3 separate regions of the Homo sapiens genome follow, and regions 1 and 2 are each linked to region 3. The links come from fine-mapping of genetic effects on gene expression. A gene starts in region 3. Each other region holds a variant in brackets. All regions are shown on one strand. Distances are from middle to middle.

Region 1 (6,990 bases), 110 kb after region 3:
GCCGGCACCACGTCCCCATCCCTGTGGGGCTAGTGGCCCAGCCCGGGGGACTGCACCCCACTGCCAGGCCAGCTTCTCCCGCTCCTGCTCTTGTCCTTGTCTCCCAAAGCAGCCCAGAGCCACCAGCACAGAACTACGGGGAGAAGAAACCTGGTCCCCGGGCTCAGGTGTGGAGGCGGGTGGCTGTGCGAGTTGGTGCGTTGGTGAAGACGGCATATGAGCAGGATTGGCGCGTTTATGGAGGTGGGTGGATGCGTGGGTCGTTGCGTTCGGGAAGACAGGTGGATGCGCGGAGTTGGCGCGTTCATGGAGGCAGGTGACTGTGTGGGCTGGCGCATTCATGCTGGGGACACACTGGGGAGTCAGCACACAAGGCCACTGGGGCTCAGAAGGCCCAGAATTGAGTCCCTCCCATGAAACCGGTGACTGAGCACACACTTCCTTCTCTGAAAGCGGGGTGCGGACACCAGTGGCAGAGACACTAAATCGGAAGCACTGCTGCATAGCCGCTGCAGGCAGTGGGCAGGACATCCCTTCCTGGCCTCCTCGTGTCCACCAGCTCCAGGAGGCCTCCAGTCCACCCTTGCCTGCCCCGCTGCCACCACAGAGCAGGCCTCTGCATGGGAACAGGCCTGGAGATGGTGAAACAGCTAGGAGGAAAACAGCCAGCCCCAGGCCTGACTCCGGCCTTGCAGATCCTTATTCAGCGGGGGACTGGGGTGCCCACACCATCTCCCCAGGCAGGGGTGGCCTCCAGAGCAGGGCCCCGCGACCAGAGCTCAGTGTGTCCTGGACCCTGACGCCTTGAGAGGGAGTCTAAGCCTCTCCTCGCCCTGGAACCGGCCCAGCCTCCGGGCTCACTGTGCTCTGGGTGGCCAGTGCGGCTCCCTCGCACCATAAAATTGATCTGCAAGGCAGGCACCGTGGTGCATGCTTGTAATCCCAGTCAGTGCTTTAGGAGGCCAAGGCAGGAGAATCACATGAGTCCAGGAGTTCCAGCCTCCTATGCCAGGCAACATAGTGAGACCCCATCTCTCCAAAAATTAAAAATTAGGCTGGGCATGGTGGCGCACCTGTAATCCCCGTACTTTGGGAGGCCGAGGCAGGAAGATCACTTGGGCCCAGGAGTTCGTGAACAGCCTGGGCAACGTAGTGAGACCCTGTCTCTACAAAAAATTTAAAAATTAGCTGGACACAGTGGTGCACTCCTGTGGTCCCAGCTACTCGGAAGGCCAAGGTGGGAAAATCACTTGAGCCCAGGAAGTTAAGGCTGCAGTGAGCTACAATGGTGCCACTGCACTCTGGCCTGGGCGACAGAGCAAGACCCTATCTCCAAAAACAAACAAGCAAAAAAACTGATCTGCAGTCTTAGTCCCAGGGCAGGGAACTCACAAGCCAGAAGAGATCTAGACGCCCTCTGTGTGGTGAGGAAAAGGCTGCGTGACTCATCCACGTATTCAGCCAGCCGGTATTGAGCACCTCCCCTTTGCTGGACACGTGGATGCCATGGGAGGGCTAGGCCTCTGCCTGCAGGGCCTGGGCAGGGGAGATGGGGGCAGACTGGGGGAGATGGGGGGACATGGAGTCAGACTGGGGAGAGATGGGGCAGATTGGGGAGATGGCAGACTGGGAAGATGGGGGTAGACTGGAGGAGATGGGGGCCATGGAGTCAGATTGGGGGAGCGATAGGGACAGATGGCGGCAGACTAGGGGAGATGGGGACAGACTGGGGGAGATGGGTCTATGGGGGCAGATTGGGGGAGATGAGAGGATAATGGAGGCAGATGGGGGAGATGAGGGAAGTAGGGGGACGATAGGGGCTGGGTGGGGGCGGTCAGAGGCAAGTACGTGCAGCTGGCAGGGGCCCTGCGCGGGCGGGGGTGCGCCCTCCCCGCAGTTCGCGCAGGTGGACCGGAGACCCGGGCGGCCAGAGAGCCTCGTCGGAGGAGCAGTGGGGGCTGCAGCAGGGTCCACCCCCGCCTTCTCAGCGCCGAGGCCCCGCCCCGGCTCTCCCACCCCCGCGCCGAGGTCCAGTCCCCGCAGGCGCGCTGGCGTCACGGTCCAGCCGGCTGGATCTGGTTCCAGCCGCGCCGGGCCGGCCGGGCATGCGCAGTGTGGAGGCGCTGAGGCTGCTGGAGGCGCGGGCCGGGCGGTGCGCACTGCGGGCGCATCCCTGCCCCGGCGCCGTCCGTGCCCGCGGGACCTGACAGCCGGGTCAGAGGTCAGTGCGCGGGGCCAGGGCCCGCATTCGGGCTGCAGGGAGGGGATGGGAGGGGCCCTGCCCCAGCCCCGCCCCGCGGCGACAGGTGGGCGCTCCCGTGGGAGGCCGTGGCGTCCAGACGCTGCTGCGGGCCCCGCTCCGCCCTGCAGACCCCGGGCCGGCCGAGCCGCGCTTCTCGGGGCTCCGCTGCGCGCCGGTCCCCGAGCAGGCCCTGGACGGTCCCGCGCCCTCCTCCCACTTACTCTCCTGGGGGCGCAGGGCCGGGCCGCGGGTGGCAGGGTGGGGGTCCAGGCCCTGCAGGCACTGCGAGCCCTCGAGCGGCCCCGCAACCGGCCAGGCTCCCCTGCGCTGTGGGGGCGGACCGGGCCCCCAGCCGCGATGCAGCAGCCCCCGGGGGAGACACGAGCTCTGAGGACCCTGGGTGGGCTGGAGTCGTCGGCCGCCGCGTGACCCTTGAGAGGGCCTGTGTCGCCCGCAGCGCCGCCTCGCCCCTCCCTGTGCCGGGGTAGAGGACCCCGTCGGGCGCTCGGAAGCCAGGGGCTTTCTTGCCTGAGGCAAGGCGGCCCCCACTGGCGCGGTGGGTGCTAGTGCGAAGCTGTGTCAACTAAAGCAAAGACTCATGATGAAAACAATTGGGATAGCTTCACTCGGGAGCCTTCCTGAGGACGGCGGAGCAGGCCGGCAGCTCCTTCAAGAGGCTCTGCCGCTGCTGCGTCGGGGCTCAGCCGGGTTTGGGTTGGAGAGCGCAGAGGTGCTTGGAGTAGGTCTTTTATCTTCTGAGGAGGCGGTGGCCCGGGCAGGTGGCGGCCCCGTGCTGGTCCTGCGCTGTGTCCTCGGAGCGTCCTCAGCTGCTGCGCGCACAGCCGGGGGCCGTGGACCAGGCGTCCGCACGGACACGCGAACCGGGCTGCCTAGCCTGCTGCTGGGCCTCACGGCTGCAGAGACGGCGGGAATGGTGACCGTTGCTTCAGAGTCCTTTGCTTATGAGTAACTCACCGAATTGACAGTGATTTTTATGAATTCGTTGTGTTCACTGAGGAGTTGTGGCAAAGTGAGAAAACCTAACCCGTACTTAGTTCCCAGATGTGAGTGTTTTAAACTATGTGTAACAACTAACAAAATTGACATGATGATACACTTCACGGACATTTAATTTTGATCCTGCCATTTCCTCATTTTAGAGGCGGTAACATGTTCTGGTTTTTTTCTCGTTGCTCAAACATCTTCCAGGCTCCTGCACGGCGGGTGCTGTGTCTCCGGGCCCAGGTGACCTCGGGGTGAGAAGGAAGGGGCCTCTGAGATGAGAACATAGTTTTGCTGTTTTCAGTTTATACTCAAAGCCCTGCAGTTTCCTGACAGCACAGAGCACACCTGTCACGCGAGCAGGATGAAGCCCAGAGGCTGCCTGGTGAAGTGGGCGGCGCGCTGGAAAATCCACGTAGCTTTGTTCCCTCCACGGGGAGCGTGCAAGGCCCTCT[C/G]GAGCACTACGGGAGCCTCGCCTTCTGCACAGACTTCGGAGCCAGGTGCTGGAGCGGCAGCAACTGAGGGGCGTGGATGTCTTTGCATGGTTCCCATACGTTTTTTAAACGTTAATAATGTGATTTTCAGTAAAGTGGCAGGATCAGCATTGAAGAATGGGGAGCAACTGTGAGCCGATTTCCTGCGAGTGGTTGAGAAGCAGGCTTTGTGTGGTTGGCCGTCCTTGTGCTTAGCGGCTGCTCCTGCCGGAGCTGCCTGCCTGTCTTAGAAACAACGCCGCCTCCGACTGCTAGTTAGCGGTGGCTTCCACAGGTGAAGCCCAGGCAGGTTAGTGTTCTCACAGCTAGGAAGGACACGGGCCTGGCAGGGAGCTGCAGCACAGCCTCTGTCGACACAGAAGCACTGCCGTGCGAACCCTTGCCTCCCGGGACAGCTGTTGCGCGCCCAGCAGCTGGAGCGCTGGCTCTGCGAGGGCTCTTCAGCAATGCCAGGTGCAGCTGGGCTCCACCCTCAACTGGTCCAATAGTAGCGAAAGAAACGAGGAGTGTCGTGAATCGTTAGACAGCGTCCATATGCCTAAGTTCAAATTGGAGCCGCCCAGCCCTACCTGTGGATACAAAGCTGCCGTTCAGTGGGGAGCTGGAGCCGAGGGGCCTATGTGACACCCCTGCATGTGGATGAAAATCACCCAGAGGCCCTGCCAACATTCTGGGAGGTGGCAAGGGGGCAGGGCCTCTGGGATCTGGGGTCACGAGTTCCAGGAGGCCTGCTTCTGCTTCTGCCCAGCAGTTCACTCTTCCCTCCACTGCAGCTGAAGCTTGAGCTGCTGCGGGGCCCACCTGGCCGGAGGCAGAAGGGAGCCCTCCGTCCCAGGCAGCGTCCTGGTGGGTGTCTGTCCTGTGCCAGACACTGGCCACAGAGGCTGAGAAAGGAGAGGACCCCAGCCTGCCTCTGGAGGCCCAGGGGAGGCAGTGAAGGGCCCAAGGCTGGTGATGCAGGAGTTTCCAGAGCGCAGGGAAATACAGAGCAAGAAACGCCAGCCCTCAGCTCCACTGGGGAGCCACGCAACCTCTACCGGTGCTGAGGGGTTACAAAGCTCTGTTACCAGCCCCATTCCTCCTGGATGGGCGAGGTCGGTCCGTATCACACCCCCAACCTCTTGTGCTCTGCGACCTCAGAATACACGGAGCTGTGTCCACAGGCCTCAGCGGCTGTGAGCCCCTCGCCTACACTGGGGGGTCCTCAGCTGACACCTGAGCCAGTGTCCTGTGCCCCAGTGGTGCCAGGGCAGAGTCCCCCTCCCTGACCTGACTTGTGCACCTCGTCACCCACCGCCAGCAGTGTCCCCCCACAACAGGCTTGCTCAGTACAGCACCCAACCCAAGTCCCCAGCACCCACACCCCAGTGAGTTTCCTGTGCCCTATAGGCTCAGCTGCTTCTCGTCCTCCCCCCACTTGGGATCCTTGGAACAGGGAGTGGTTCTTATTTAGGTCCCTGAGGTACCAAGCACAGGCTTTGCTCTTAGCAGCCGCCACTCCAGTGATGAAGCCGTTAGCAGACTGGCCTCTGCAGAGCTCTGCGGGGAGGTGCCTGGCTTCTCCGGCCTCCACCCTGGCCCAGAGCTGCCTCCTGAGCAGCGGATCCCAACCTGCCTGCCCCTGGGGCTGGGTCTCCAGCAGTCAGGACTGAGTTGTTGCTAGCTGCTGACAGGTGTGGGGCGAAGGGGGCGCATTTGCCGCATGTCCCCATTGGCAGCATCTCCACGCCTTCCCTTGTGACACCTCCAACCAGAATAGAGCAGGTATGTGGGAGCCCGCACCTGCTCCCCCAGCGCCCCGGGGTCGTCTTCTGCCTGCTCCTTCTGTCCTCCACACTGAAGAGTGTGCTCCAGCTGGGGATGGGCATGTGTGACGCTGGGGAATGGATACCTGTGAAATGGTGGAGTGTGCATCAAGTCTAAATAGCCGCTCGCAGGATCTGGGGGCTTTTTGTTTTCAGAAACCTGATCTGATCTTTATAAAAAGTGCTCCCCCACTCAGTCAGCCTGGGTGTCCCTCCCGTCCAGGCCAGCAGCGCTGTCTGGCTCGGCAAGGAGGGGCTGAAACTGGAGAGCCCCTGGGAAGGCTCTTGTGGGCCAGGTGGCAGCGGGGAGGGTGGCTCTTGTTCCCCGCCCTCATCCTAGCGTTCAGCAGACTGCCCCACACCACAGGTTTCCATTTTCACCCTTGGGTTAAGAGAAAAGCAGAAATAAAAAGTTTCTAATGTTGCTTGCGAAATTCAGCACTGGCCACCAAAGGCACCTGGGGCTTCTGCGTCTCTCTTGTCCCCTGGGGCTCCTGCGTCTCTCCTGTCCCATGGGTCCGTTTCTTGCTGTTTATTGCAACCCGCCTACATCGTTGGTGTGTGCAGCTGAACTCAGGCTGTTTAGGAAGCCCACGGGCAGGGCTCTGTGGGGCCCATTCCTGGTCCCACGTCTCTGGCAAGGGCTCCTCTTGAGCTGAGGCTTCTGAGCTCCTGCAGGCGGGAGTAGGGAGGCAGGTCCCACTGTCAGCCAAGCTGCAGGGTTTTTAGGAAGAAAGTGGGGGCTGTGCACCGTGGGCTCACACCTATAATCCCAGCACTTTGAGGCTGGCCGGAAGGATCGCTGTGGCCCAGGAGTTTGAAAACTCATGCCTATAATCCCAGCACTTTGGGAGGCCGGCAAGGAGGATCACTTTAGCTCAGGAGTGTGAGAGCAGCCTTGGTCCTATCTCTATAAAAAATTTAAAAACTGGCCAGGCATGGTGGCACATGCCTATAGTCCTGGTTGCTTGGGAGGCTGAGGTGGGAGGATTGCTTGAGCCCAGGAGGTCGAGGCTGCAGTAAACTGTGATGGTGCCGCTGCAGTCCAGCCTGGGCCACAGAGCAAGACCGTGTATCAAAAGGAAAGGGCTGCTGTGGAAGGGCCTCCAGTCCCCTGGCCTGGGCTGCAGGGGCCGCTGCTCCAGCCCTGCCTTCTACATGTGCCGAGATGTGAGCAGTCACCCCTGGAGATCCTCACCCCTTCTCTGTAGAACGAGGAGTTGGGCTGCCAGGGATTGGGGTCTGGGCGCGTTGCTGGTGTGTGTGTGTGTGTGTGTGTGTGTGTGTGTGTGTGTGTGTGTGTGTGTGTGTTTCCTGGGAGGAGGCCCCCACAGTCTTCGTCATGTTCTCCAGGGCCCAGTGGGAAGGAGTTGGAAGTTGGATGGAGAGAAATGTGGAGTAGGGCAGGAACCTCCTTCCTAGGAAGGAGCCTGCGGGGGACCCTGCA
Region 2 (6,990 bases), 140 kb after region 3:
CCACCCACAGGACTCCACTCACCCACAGGACTCCACTCACCCACAGGACTCCCCACCCACAGGACTCCCCACCGGCAGGACTCCACTCACCCACAGGACTCCCCACCCACAGGACTCCATTCACCCACAGGACTCCCCACCCACAGGGCTCCACACCCACAGGATTCCCTACCCACAGGACTCCCCACCCACAGGATTCCACTCACCCACAGGGCTCCACTCACCCACAGGACTCCACTCACCCGCAGGACTCCACTCACCCGCAGGACTCCACTCACCCACAGGACTCCCCACCCACAGGACTCCCCACCTGCAGGACTCCACTCACCCACAGGACTCCACTCACCCACAGGGCTCCACTCACCCACAGGACTTCCCACCCACAGGACTCCACTCACCCAGAGGACTCCCCACCCACAGGACTCCCCACCCGCAGGACTCCACTAACCCACAGGACTCCCCACCCACAGGACTCCACTCACCCACAGGACTCCCCACCCACAGGACTCCACTCACCCACAGGACTCCACTCACCCACAGGACTCCCCACCCGCAGGACTCCCCACCCGCAGGACTCCCCACCCACAGGACTCCACTCACCCACAGGACTCCCCACCCACAGGACTCCACTCACCCACAGGACTCCCCACCCACAGGGCTCCACACCCACAGGACTCCCTACCCACAGGACTCCCCACCCACAGGACTCCACTCACCCGCAGGACTCCACTCACCCACAGGACTCCCCACCCACAGGACTCCACTAACCCACAGGACTCCCCACCCGCAGGACTCCCCACCCGCAGGACTCCACTCACCCACAGGACTCCACTCACCCACAGGACTCCCCACCCGCAGGACTCCCCACCGGCAGGACCCCCCACCCGCAGGACTCCACTCACCCACAGGACTCCCCACCCACAGGGCTCCACTCACCCACAGGACTCCCCACCCACAGGATTCCACTCACCCACAGGACTCCACTCACCCGCAGGACTCCACTCACCCACAGGACTCCCCACCCACAGGACTCCACTCACCCACAGGAATCCCCACCCACAGGACTCCACTCACCCACAGGACTCCCCACCCACAGGACTCCACTCACCCACAGGACTCCCCACCCACAGGGCTCCACACCCACAGGACTCCACTCACCCACATGGCAGTGGGGTCAGGCAAGCTGGGCAGCGCTCACAACAGGCACAGGGCCCTCCCCCGTGCTGAGCCTACAGTCTTCAGACCTGGGCTTGCACACTGATGGAGGCTTCTGGGCTCGGCTGCCCTGCCTGGCCCTGGAAACACGTATCTGGGAGGAGGTCTCTGGAGTAAACCCTGCCTGGCCCTGCCCTACCCACAGCGCCAGCTTCGCTCCATCCGCAGCTGCCTGATGTCCACAGGCCCTAGTGCAGGAGCGGGACGGGGGCGGGGTGGTTGTGGCCCTGGGGAGCGGCCCCTCTAGCAGCCGGGAGCTGCTCGTCCCCAGGCCCACTGGCCCCTTGTTGTGAGGGCCTGGGACTCAGGGTATTGTTCCTTACAGTCTTCCCATTTTCATGTAGAAAATACATCATCAATTACATCGCTCCCTTTCCTCCCAGAGAAACTCACTTCATCCTTCCCCCCCTGTAAAATCCGTGTGACCCATGGGGTGGGGGAGCCCACGGGGACTTGGGGTCAGTGGTGAGCCCCGGGGTGGCCAAGGTAAGAGTGGCGTCCACATGCTTCCTGGTCAGGCGGCAGCAGGGCGTGGGGTTGCGGCTCCTCGCCTCGGGCAGGGGAGGGGCTCCAAAAACCCTCTTCACATGAGGCCTTGGTGTGTAGTACCTGGTGGGGCTCCCTCTCCTAAGATGAGGCGTCCCCGATCTCTCAGGGCAGACAGCTGCCCGGGAGTCTTTTGCCCAGCACCCTGAGATGTTTGTCTTTCTTTCCCTAGATGGGCCCAAAAGCACAAGAACTGGAGGTTTCAGAAGACGAGGCAGACGTGGCTCCTGCTGCACATGTATGACAGTGACAAGGTGTGTGCACGGCGGGGCAGGCACGTCTCCTGGGGGCTGAGGTCTGTGCACGGCGGGGCAGGCACGTCCCCCCGGGGGCTGAGGTGTGTGCACGGCGGGGCAGGCACGTCTCCCGGGGGCTGAGGTGTGTGCACGGCGGGGCAGGCACGTCTCCCGGGGGCTGAGGTCTGTGCACGGCGGGGCAGGCACGTCTCCTGGGGGCTGAGGTCTGTGCACGGCGGGGCAGGCACGTCTCCTGTGCACACTGGGGCCCTGACAGCAGAAGCCACAGTCTGAAGGGGCCGCCCTCAGGGCCCCACTGCAGGGCAGGTCTCCCGGTGCCTTTGTTCTAAGAGATGAGCAGCGTTGCCTCCTCCAGGAGCCCTGCCGCCGGCCTTCAGGGCAGAAACCAACACGGGGTAACCTTAGGGAGGCCACCTGCACGTGTGCGTGTGACGTGTGTCTACACGTGCGTGTGTGCATGACGTGTGTCTACACGTGTGTGCGCGTGATGTGTGTCTACACATGTACGTGTGGGCAGCTGCCCTTTTCAGGGGCAGGATGTGAGATAGAGTTTCACAGGATGAAACGAGACAGAATTCTGAACTAAACCCGGCTGCTGGGCGGCGGGCTGGAGCTGCCCATGTCCTGTGAGGCTGGAGGAGCCCACGGTTCTGCTGAGCTGCATCCGGTGGGCAGTGCCTCCTGCCTCGCTGGCTCTCCTGCGCCCACGTTACTAGAGGCCAGGCTTTGCGTGCGCGCTGGGGGCAGGGGGCGGTTTTCTCCTGCCGTGCCTGTGTTTGCAGACTCTCAGAGCGGGGCAGGCCCACCAGCCCCACTCACAGCCCTGGGACATTCCAGGCATAGCCTGCAGCCACTTGCTTTCATTATTTTGTTGTTTTTGTTTTTTTGTGGGCGTTTTTTGAGACAGGGCCCCGCCCAGGCTGGAGTGCAGTGACACGACCACAGTTCACTGCAGCCTCGACCTCCTGGGCTCAAGCCACTCTCCCTCCTCAGAGTTAGAGGACATACACATTGCAAGCCCTATTGCAAGCCGATTGTAAGCCCTATTGCAAGCTCCGGTAATCGCGACACTGGGGCAGGCACAAGGGTGGAAGTAGAATTGACTGGAACAGCCTGGGAAGCCTGGAAACCCTCACGCCCGGCGCAGCTGATTCCAGCATGCGGGCCAAGCCTGTTCCATGTGGAGGAAACCTCTTCTTAACAGAGCCAGGGACAACTGGGTTTCCACGTTTTGTTTTGTTTTAACCAAAGTTTACGTGGTTTTATTTATATGTTACTATTACCAAAAGTAAACTTTATACAAAACTTTTTATACAGAAAAATAATCCTTGGTTAGGCAAATCCTTGGTTAGCCATTTATATGTGTGTATACACACACACACACACGCAAAGTTATCTTACACTATTGTAATTAAACATATTTACAAACACACAAATGTGCATTTTACTTATACATTTTTATTTCATATGTAACC[G/A]TACATATTTACGAACATGCCGATACTTAATGCACGCAGCCCCCAGCTTCAAACCATATGCAAAAATTAACTCAAAATGGATCAGAGACTTAAATTTAAAAGCTAAAACCAAAACTCTTAGATGAAAGCCTAAGAGTCCATTTCGTGCCCTTGGGTGAGGCAACAGTTTCTTAAATGTGACTCTAGAAGCACAAGCGACAAAGGAAAAAGTCGAGAAAGTGCCTTCATCAGGATCTAAGACTGTGTAGCCGGGCGTGGTGGCTCACGCCTGTAATCCCAGCACTTTGGGAGTCTGAGGCGGGTGGATCACTTGAGGTCAAGAGTTCGAGACCAGCCTGGCCAACATGGCAAAAACCCCGTCTCTACTAAAAATACAAAAATTAGCTAGGTGTGGTAATGCTTGCCTATAATCCCAGCTACTTGGGAGGCTGAGGCAGGAGAATTACTTGAACCTGGGAGGTGGAGATCGTGCCACTGCACTGCAGCCTGGACAACAGAGCAAGACCGGCTCAAAAAAAAAAAAAAAAAAAAAAAGAATCTAAGACTTTGCACTGCATACAGAACTAGCTGGAAAGTGAAATGGTTGCTACAGAATGGGAGACGTTTGCAAGTCCCACATGGAATTAGAACTCTGCTAACTCAATAATAAAAAGAGCCCAGTGTTGAAAGCCGCTGCCACAGGGACCTGAGGAAACGTGCCTGCAGAGCAGATTGTCAGGTGACTGGTGAGCCTGTGCAGAGGTGCCCCCACCACCAGCAGACAAGGGTCAGGCCACCAAGAGATGCCACCTGGCCACTGCCGCCCTGAGCAGAAAGGCGAGCGTGCCAAGTGCCGGCGCGTACTTGGCTTTTTGTTCTGAATGCACCTTTCATCACCGCCTACCCCTGTTTAATTTGTGTCGTATTTTCTCGTTTTTCTGAGGATTTTTACGATGTTTGTGAAATGTTCTCCCCACATGGCTTCTGTTTTACCCAGGTTAATTGAGTGTTTTGTCTGCCTCTAAACAGGCATTTCTTCTTCCAGTGTCTGGGGCAGGGTCTGTGGCCAGGCCGCCCACACCCTCGGGCCGCAGTGGGAGGACGGAAGCCTGAGGCCCGGGTGTCCTTGGCTGCAGCGTCTTGTCTCCTGCTGTTCAGCGGCCCCTCCCTGCCCCGCCCCTGACCAACTCGATCTCTTTCCCGTCCAGGTTCCCGATGAGCACTTCTCCACCCTGCTGGCCTACCTGGAGGGGCTGCAGGGCCGGGCCCGAGAGCTGACGGTGCAGAAGGCGGAAGCCCTGATGCGGGAGCTGGATGAGGAGGGCTCTGATCCCCCCCTGCCGGGGAGGGCCCAGCGCATCCGACAGGTGCTGCAGCTGCTCTCCTAGTGGGTTCAGCGCGGGGCGGGGCCGCTGCCCAGTGCAGGGCTGCCTCAGACCACACAGGGTGCAGCTCCTCCGGCGGTGGGGGCCGGGTTCACCAGCAGGGCAGCGGCTGAGCAAGGGCTTTCAGCTCCTCCGGTGGTGGGGGCCGGGATCACCAGCACCAGAGCCTCGCAAGGGCCCCTTCCCTCCTCCAGACCCTCCTTGGCCGGTGACGGCTGTGACAGTGATGGCAGGTTCAGTGCCTTCAGCGCAGAGCGTGGATGCTCTGGAATCACCCGGACCCCTGGCCTTGGAGGGACCCTCCAGCCCCAGGAATCTGCTTTGGAGGGAAATGTCTATTTTTCTACCGGGAATATTTTAGAGATTGGGGCATGCTGGCTCCTCCCGCCAGCTGCAAACCTGCACCTTCCGCCTGATTCCCGATCCCCCTGCGTGGGCCGCATTCCTGGTCCCCTGCCTGCGTCCATCGAGGGGCCTGGCTGTGGCCTGTTTTCCTTTGACCCCACACAGCGTCATTGCGGGTCATGGGGAGCCCCTGGTGGGAGCTTGTGGAGTCGGATCACGTACCTGTGCAGAAACCGCCTCTGTGGCTGCATTTGAAATAAAACCCGACCCAGCAGCAGCCGTGGGTCCTGCTCTGTGCGGTGCGTCCCCTGCCTGTGGACTGCGGAATTCGTGTCCCCCATGCCAGCGCACGCCAGGCTGAGACCCCGCCCTTGGTGGCCACCCCAGGATGGCATTGGGGGCGCTCTGTGTGTGGCGTTCCTGGCAGTGGGTGCTGGCTGATCGCTTGCGTTCAGGCCGGCCGTTTCCCAGCGCTGGCAGTGACTGACCCTGCCAGGAAACACACTTAGGCCGCACAGAATCAAGCCACACACTTCCTGTTCCCAGCAGCACGTGGTCCCTGCCCCCAAGTGATGTGAGGTGCCGCGGGGCACCGGGAAGGCCGTGGTGACCGCAGAGCTCTGGGCAGCTGCCGGGGAGGGCCGGGTGGCCATGGCGAGGAGGTCCGTGCCCCACTGTGAGGCCAAGTCTGTTCCAGGATGGGCCCCGGGGAGGGCTGAGGCCAGTGGCTCCGGTCTGGGCCTCCACAGAGCAGACACCCAGGTGCTGCTGCCCCGGGGCCGCCTCCTGCCCAGCCCAGGTTGGGGGTTTGTGCTGCCGTCTCAGTGCTCCCCCAACTGACGGTGGAGCAGAAAAGTAGCTGCAGCCGCCACCTGGCAGCCTTGGGACGCTGGCTCAGGCCCTGAGTGCCCCCTTGGGTGCCCCGCCCCCCAACAGAGCTCCTGAGGCTGAGGTCAGGCTGCCTGCCTTGGCTGCCACCAACGCACAGAGCTGCATGCAAGCCGGGAGGCGGGAGCACGGCCGGCCTCACCCTGTGAGAGCAGAGTCACAGGCTCCGGGCTGTTGTTGTGGGGAGGGCCTGGGGCTTCCCGTGGCCACTGCTGGCCTGGCTGGGCCTCCTCAGCCGTGGCCCTCGGGGCCTGCACCTCAGAGCGGTGACTGGCCTCACTGTGACCCACGGACGTCTACTGTGACTTCCTCCTTAGCTCCCTGAAGACACCCAGGGCTGGGCTAAGATGTGGTCTGGGCAGGTCTGGCTGACCACTCAGGCCATCTCTATGTGGACATCGAGACTCGGGGCCGGAGGAGACCCTAAGGACCGTGTCCCCAGGTCCTCTCTGCACCCACCAAGCTGTGGGAAGGAGATGAGGCTGTTTGCTCTTCCTTGGCCAGCATCCAGCCCCGTCCCCCAACTGTTGTGGCCAAAATTCTGACCACCCACGACACAGGGCCTGCTGTGTGCACCCCACTGGCCCAGGGCGGGCCTTGCCGGCGGCAGGCGAGGAGTCCAGCCCCTCCTGGTGTCGGTCAGGTGAACTCACAAACAGGAAGGCACGTTGCACAGCACGAACCTTCAGATCTGCCAGGCGGTGCCTGCGATCCGGCTGCTGGCAGCACAGCTTTGCAGAGAAGCTGCTGGGAAGGGTCCGTGTTCAGCCCAGCAGTCAGGGTGCTCAGTGGCCCCTATGCTGTGAGGCACCTTAAACAAACAGCAGAGGGAGACCCGCAAAGTGCAAAGAAGGGGCAGCAGCCTCCAGAAGGCAGGGCTGATGGATCCGGAACCAGAGC
Region 3 (6,541 bases):
ATGAGAGAAAATGAGAACCAAGCAAAAGGGGTTTCCCCTTATCAAACCATCAGATCTCATGAGACTTACTCACTACCAAGAGAACAGTATGGGGGAAACTGCCCCCATGATTCAATTATGTCCCACCAGGTCCCTCCCACAATGCATGGGAATTATGGGAGATACAATTCAAGATGAGATTTGGGTGGGGACACAGCCAAACCATATCAATTTCCAAAAATAAAAATGAAAAAAAATTATTTTCCTTTTTTCCTTTTTTTTTTTCACCCAGGCTGGAGTGCAGTGGTGTGATCATAGTTCACTGCAGCCTCCATCTTCCAGGCTCAAGCAATCCTTCCACCTCAGCCTCCTAAGTAGCTGGGACTATATGCGTGCACCACCACACCCAGCTAATTTTCTATTTTTATTTTTGTAGACATGAGGTCTTACTGTTTGCCCAGGCTGGTCTTGAACTCCTGGTGTCCATCCATCCTCCTGACTCAGCCTCCCAAAGAGCTGGGATTACAGGCCTGAGTCACTGCACCTGGCCATGATTCACTTTTTTTTTTTTTTTTTTTTTGAGCTGGAGTCTTGCTCTGTCGCCCAGGCTGGAGTGCAGTGGCGCGGTCTCAGCTCATTGCAACCTCTGCCTCCCGGGTTCAATAGGTTCTGATGCCTCAGCCTCCTGAGTAGCTGGGATTATAGGTACATGCCACCATGCCTGGCTAATTTTTGTATTTTTAGTAGAGATGGAGTTTTGCCACGTTGGCCAGGCTGGTGTTGAACTCCTGACTTCAAGTGATCCATCCACCTCAGCCTCCCAAAGTGCTGGGATTACAGGTGTGAGCCACCGCACCCGGCCGACTTCTAATGAACAGAATATGGCAAAAGCCTAGGGAAGTCACTTCTGAGATTAGGGTGCAAGGAGACTGTGATGTGCGTCTTGTGTGTGCCTCCTCTTGTGTGTGCTTGCACCGTCTAAGGCAAGCCAGCTGCAGTGTTGTGAGCTTCCTTGTGGTAAGGCCCATGTACCAAGGAACTGAGGGTGGCCTTTGGGCAGCAGCCAGCAAGGCTGAGGCCCTTCTCTAATGACCTTGGAGGACTGAGTCCTTACAATATCCGTGTGTGTGAGCTTGGGAGTGGATCATTCCAGATAAGCTTTCCGATGAAACCACAACCCTGGGGGGACACCTTGACCACAACTTGGTGAACCCTTGAGGCAAAGGCACAGAGCTTAGCCACGCCCACTTTCCTGACCGCGGATACCATGAAAAAATAAATGTTCTTTTAGGCTGCTAAATGTTGGGTTAATTTGTTATGCAGAAAAAGGAACCAAATACAATCTTCTACCAGTAAGGAAGAGTGCACCTTCTTTGCTTGTCACCTTTGGATTCCTGAGGCAACGTACATCATACTTGATACGGCTGCCAAGCACTTAACTTACTGGGTGACTTGAAAGCATGCTTTTTTTTCTTTTTTTTTTTTAGACGGGGTCTGGCTCTGTTGCCCAGGCTGGAGTGCAGTGCCTTGATCATAGCTCACTGCAGCCTCCATCTCCCAGGCTCCAGCGATCCTCCCACCTCAGCGTCCAGAGTATCAGGAACTACAGGCACGTGCCACCATACCCGGCTAATTTTTATTTTTTTAATTTATTTTTTATTTTTTAAAACAGAGTCTCATTCTGTCGCCCAGGCTGGAGTGCAGTGGCACGATCTCGGCTCACTGCAACCTCCACCTCCCGGGCTTAAACGATTTTCCTGCCTCAGCCTCCCGAGTAGCTGGGATTACAGGCACCTGCCACCACGCCTGGCTAATTTTTGTATTTTTAGCAGAGACGGGGTTACGGGGTTTCGTCATGTTGGCCAGGCGGGTCTCGAACTCCTGAGCTCAAGCGATCCGCCCGCCTGGGCCTCCCAAAATGCTGGGATCACAGGCGTGAGTCACCGCTCCCGGACACAAGCATTATTATAACACTACCCACCCTGTGTATTTTTTAGCACCTATCCTGATTTTTTAAATTCAGCACGAAGTTTAAGTCCTAGCCCTGTTGATCCCAATAGCCGTAGCTCATCCATTTCGACTCCGAGCCGAGCTCCATACCCTGGACCCTCGGCGGAGGCCCCACCCCGGGACGCCAGCCCGGCCGGGGCAGCTTGCACCCCAGACCCCCAAGCCCTGCGGGGCCCAAACCTAGTCATCTGCACTTGTTCTGGGCAGGGCGGGTTGCCTTGGCAACCAGCTCCTCTCCAAGCAACTCTAGGCCTCTAGAGATGGCGTCAGTAGCCCGCGCCCGGTCCTGGAACCGCCCCCCGTGCTGCCGCCGCTTGCCATTAGCCGGCGGAGAGACGGACGCAGACCTCGTCCAATGGGAGGCTCCGCACTCCTGAAGGCGGGACTAACGCTTACCTGGGGCGCGGGTCCCTGCCGGAAGGCGGCGTCCGCGACGCAGCTGTTCACGCTTAGGTGGGCGACGTGGGCGCAGGTGGGCGCAGGTAGGCGCGTGGGGCGGCGGCGGGGTGGCCGGCGGGTCAGGGCGCCAGGAGACCCAGAGCCCCGGGGCGGGCTCCCGCGGGGCTCCGCCCCCTCCACGTGGGTGCGCGGAGGCCCGGCGCGGCGCGACCGGGCGGCGGCCCTGGGGTCCGCGGTGCTGGGGAGGCTGGTGCGGCCGGTGCGGCCGGTGCGTCCCGGCGCGGGCTCCGACACCCGCACCCGCCTCTGGGTTAACTCAGCGCGGGCGAGTGGAAGGGACTCAGCTGGCTCCTAGGTTTCAGGCCGTCAGGGCTTGCAGTGGCTCTGGTTTCATTGTCTTTCTCTGAAGACGCCCTGATTGCCCTCCGAGGCTTTCAGCTCCCACTTTCTCTTTTTCAATTTTTGAGGCAGTGTCTCGCTGTGCCACCCAGGCTGGAGTGCAATGGCGTGATCATAGCTCACTGCAGCCTCCACCTCCTGGGCTCAAGCCGTCCTCCCGCCTCATCCTCCCAAGTAGCTGGGACCACATGCGCGCGCCACCACACCCGGATAATTTTTAAAAATGTTTTTTGTAGAAATGGGGTCTCACCATGTTACCCAGGCTGGTCTCGAATTCTTGGGCTCAAGCGATGGATCCTCCTGCCTCGGCCTCCCAAAGTGCTGGGATTACAGGAGTGAGCCAACGCGCTTGGCCTCACTTTCCATCATAAGCATGCTTTCCGTTTCCTTCCTTCCGTCATTCATTCATTCATTTTTAAAAAACGTTCATTGGGTTCCTCCTGCACTGTTCGGGGCATTGGGCTACAGCTGTCAACAAGTGGAGACAAGTCTGTGATCTAGTGAACTTCCATTCTGGAGGGGAGAGACAGATGAACAAGGTGCACAGAGCAGGTGATGGTAAGTGCCATGGAGAAGATGAGAACAGGGGTTTTGAGAATGGAAAGGAAGCAGGAGGAGGAGTGAGGCACCAGAACATTCCAGGTCGAGGAAACAGCAGGTGCAGGGGAAACAGCAGGGAGCCCAGTGTGGCTGCAGCCAATTTGGGAACAGAGAGAGAAAGAGGAGGTGAGTTCCCAGAGATGCGAGGAGGGGCCAGGGCAGTCGTGTGGACCTTACCAAGTGGCAAGGACCTTGACTTTCCCTCCAAGTGGAAGGGGACAGCTTGGGAAGTTTTTTGAGTGGAGGTGACACACCATCTGATTTAGGAGTTTAAAAGCCATCGTGAGAGGTGGTGGCTTGGACTGGGTACCTATGGGATCTTAAGGGAGTCACATTCTGGGTGTATTTCAGTGGTAAACCAACAGGAGTTTGTGGTGGGTTGGACGAGTATGTGAGAAAGAGAGGATTTATGGATGGACCAAGGTTTTAAGCTTGAGCTACTATGTGAACCTCATCAGATGGATGTTTATGGAGAGGATGAACACTAGGAAGCTCAGGTTTGTGGAGGGTGATCAGGGGTATTGATTACGAATTCTTAAGCTTGAGATGATATATGTGTAGATGATATATATAAGTACATATATATGGTTATATATATAGTTATATATATACACAGTTTATACACACATCCGCATATATATATTTATTTTTATATATTTATATATATTTATATATGTTTATATATGTTTATATATGTTTATGTTTATATGTTTATATATGTTTATATATGTTCATATATATGTTTATATATATTTATATATGTTTATATATATTTATATGTTTATATATGTTTATATATTTATATATGTTTATATATGTTTATATATATTTATATATATGTTTATATATATTTATATATATGTTTATATATATTTATATATATGTTTATATATTTATATATATTTATATATATGTTTATATATATTTATATGTTTATATATTTATATATTTATGTTTATATATATTTATATATGTTTATATATATTTATATATATTTTATATATTTATATATGTTTATATATATTTATATATATTTTATATATTTATATATGTTTATATATATTTATATATTTGTGTATATATTTATAATTATGTATATTTATACATATTTATGTATATATATTTATATATTTATGTATATATTTATATATATTTATGTATATATATTTATATACACATTTATATAAATTTATATATACTTATATTTATATATATTTATATATACTTATATATTTATACATATATTTATATATACATATATATTTTATATATATATTTATATATGCTTATATATTTATATATACTTATATATATTTATATATATTTATATATACTTATATATTTATATATACTTATATATATTTTTATATATACTTATATATTTATATATTCATATATATTTTTATATATTTATATAAATACATATTTATGTAAATATATTTATATATTTATTTTATATAAATAAATAAATAAATTGTGTATATATATATATATATATATTTCTTTTTGAGGTGGAGTCTCACTCTGTTGTCCAGGCTGGAGTGCAGTGGCGCGATCTCGGCTCACTGCAACCTCCACCTCGTATTCAAACGATTCTCCTGCCTCAGCCTCCCGAGTAGCTGGGTTTACAGGCAGGTGCCAGCACACCCAGCTAATTTTTGTGTTTTCAGTAAAGATGGGGTTTCACCATGTTAGCCAGGCTGGTCTCAAACTCCTGACCTCAAGTGATCTCCCCGCCTCGGCCTCCCAAAGTGCTGGGATTACAGGCGTGAGCCACCGTGCCCGGCCATACACATACATATATATACACACATGTAGATATATGTGTATAAACAGTGTAAACAGAGGTCAGGAGTTCAAGTATATATATGTGTATATATGTCTAGGTACACATATATGACCATGTATATATATATAACTATATGTATATACATACAACTATAGCTATATATATACACAGTTGAGTTGGCGTGTAGTTGAAGGAGAGGGTTAATAAGAGACTGTAAAGAGAGGAAACAAAGTCATCAGCGTCTAGTTGGTATTTGAAGCCACATGACTGAATGGGATCACGAGGGAGTGAGGAGGCTGAGCACTAAGCCTGGGTCCTTCAGTGTTCAAGGACACGGCGATTAAGAGGTGGGAGCAAAAGCAGAAGTTCTGCTGTCTGTGCTGGATGCCAAGTGAAAAATGCCTGTCAAGAGAGAAGGAAGGATCAACAGTCCAACGCTGTTAGGTCAAATAAGTTGCATACTGAGAGTTGGCAATGGGATTTAGCCACGTGGGTGTCATTGTGGTAGGGTGTTTGGGGCAAAAGCCTGATGGGATGGGGGAAGGAAAGGAGTCAGAGACAGGGCAGGTAGATGACTCTTTATGTATTTATTTATTTATTTATTTTTGAGAAGGAGTCTCACTCTGTAGCCCAGGCTGGAGTGCAGTGGTGCGATCTCGGCTCACTGCAAGCTCCGCCTCCCAGGTTCACATCATTCTCCTGCCTCAGCCTCCCGAGTAGCTGAGTAGCTGGGACTACAGGCACCCGCCACTATGCCCAGCTAATTTTTTGTATTTTTTAGTAGAGACGGGGTTTCACCATGTTAGCCAGGATGGTCTCGATCTCCTGACCTTGTGATCTGCCTGTCTCGGCCTCCCAAAGTGCTGGGATTATAGGCGTGAGCCACCGCACCCGGCCTATTTATTTATTTATTTAGAGACACAGTGTCACTCTGTTACCCATGCTGGAGTGCAGTGGCGCGATCTCGGCTCACTGTAATCTCCATAGTTTCAAGTGATTCTCCTGCCTCAGCCTCCCGAGTAGCTGGGACTACAGGCACACGCCACCACACCTGGCTAATTTTTGTATTTTTAGTAGAGATGGGGTTTCACCATATTGGCCAGCCTAGTCTCGAACTCCTGACTTCAGGTGATCTGCCCACCTCGGCCTCCCAAAGTGCTGGTATTACAGGTGTGAGCCACTGCGCTCAGCCTTGCCCCCCACCCTTTTAAGAGACAGTCTCTCACTCTGTCGCCGAGGCTGGAGTATCATGGCGTGATCGTGATTCACTGCACCCTTGAACTCCTAGGCTCAAGTGATTCTCCTGCCTCAACCTCCCAAGTAGCTGGGACTACAGGCACGCACCACCATGCCCAGCGAATTAAA

The links.
Region 1: its variant is fine-mapped to the expression of CHLSN in whole blood (TOPMed, PIP above 0.99).
Region 2: its variant is fine-mapped to the expression of CHLSN in whole blood (TOPMed, PIP above 0.99).

What each region holds. Positions count from the first base shown.
Region 1 is chr7:1,023,489-1,030,478 of GRCh38, reverse strand. The region is part of intron 2 of CHLSN (cholesin); the gene reads left to right. Among named protein-coding and RNA genes, the nearest start is that of MIR339, 4.0 kb to the right of the region's middle. RefSeq lists enhancers at 1,466-2,199, 2,200-2,934, 6,785-6,990 and silencers at 1,703-2,482, 2,513-2,722. The variant C/G (reference allele first, on the strand shown) is at 3,700.
Region 2 is chr7:995,495-1,002,484 of GRCh38, reverse strand. CHLSN (cholesin) reads left to right here. Exons shown (of 5, transcript NM_001318252.2): 4 at 1,934-2,015; 5 at 4,681-5,479. The coding sequence ends at 4,860. Among named protein-coding and RNA genes, the nearest start is that of CYP2W1, 16 kb to the right of the region's middle. RefSeq lists enhancers at 2,661-3,250, 4,707-5,247, 6,744-6,793. The variant G/A (reference allele first, on the strand shown) is at 3,494.
Region 3 is chr7:1,134,119-1,140,659 of GRCh38, reverse strand. It overlaps CHLSN (cholesin), which reads left to right and starts at 2,413. Exons shown (of 5, transcript NM_001318252.2): 1 at 2,413-3,345. RefSeq lists silencers at 2,004-2,143, 2,344-2,793, 2,804-2,853 and an enhancer at 2,184-2,283.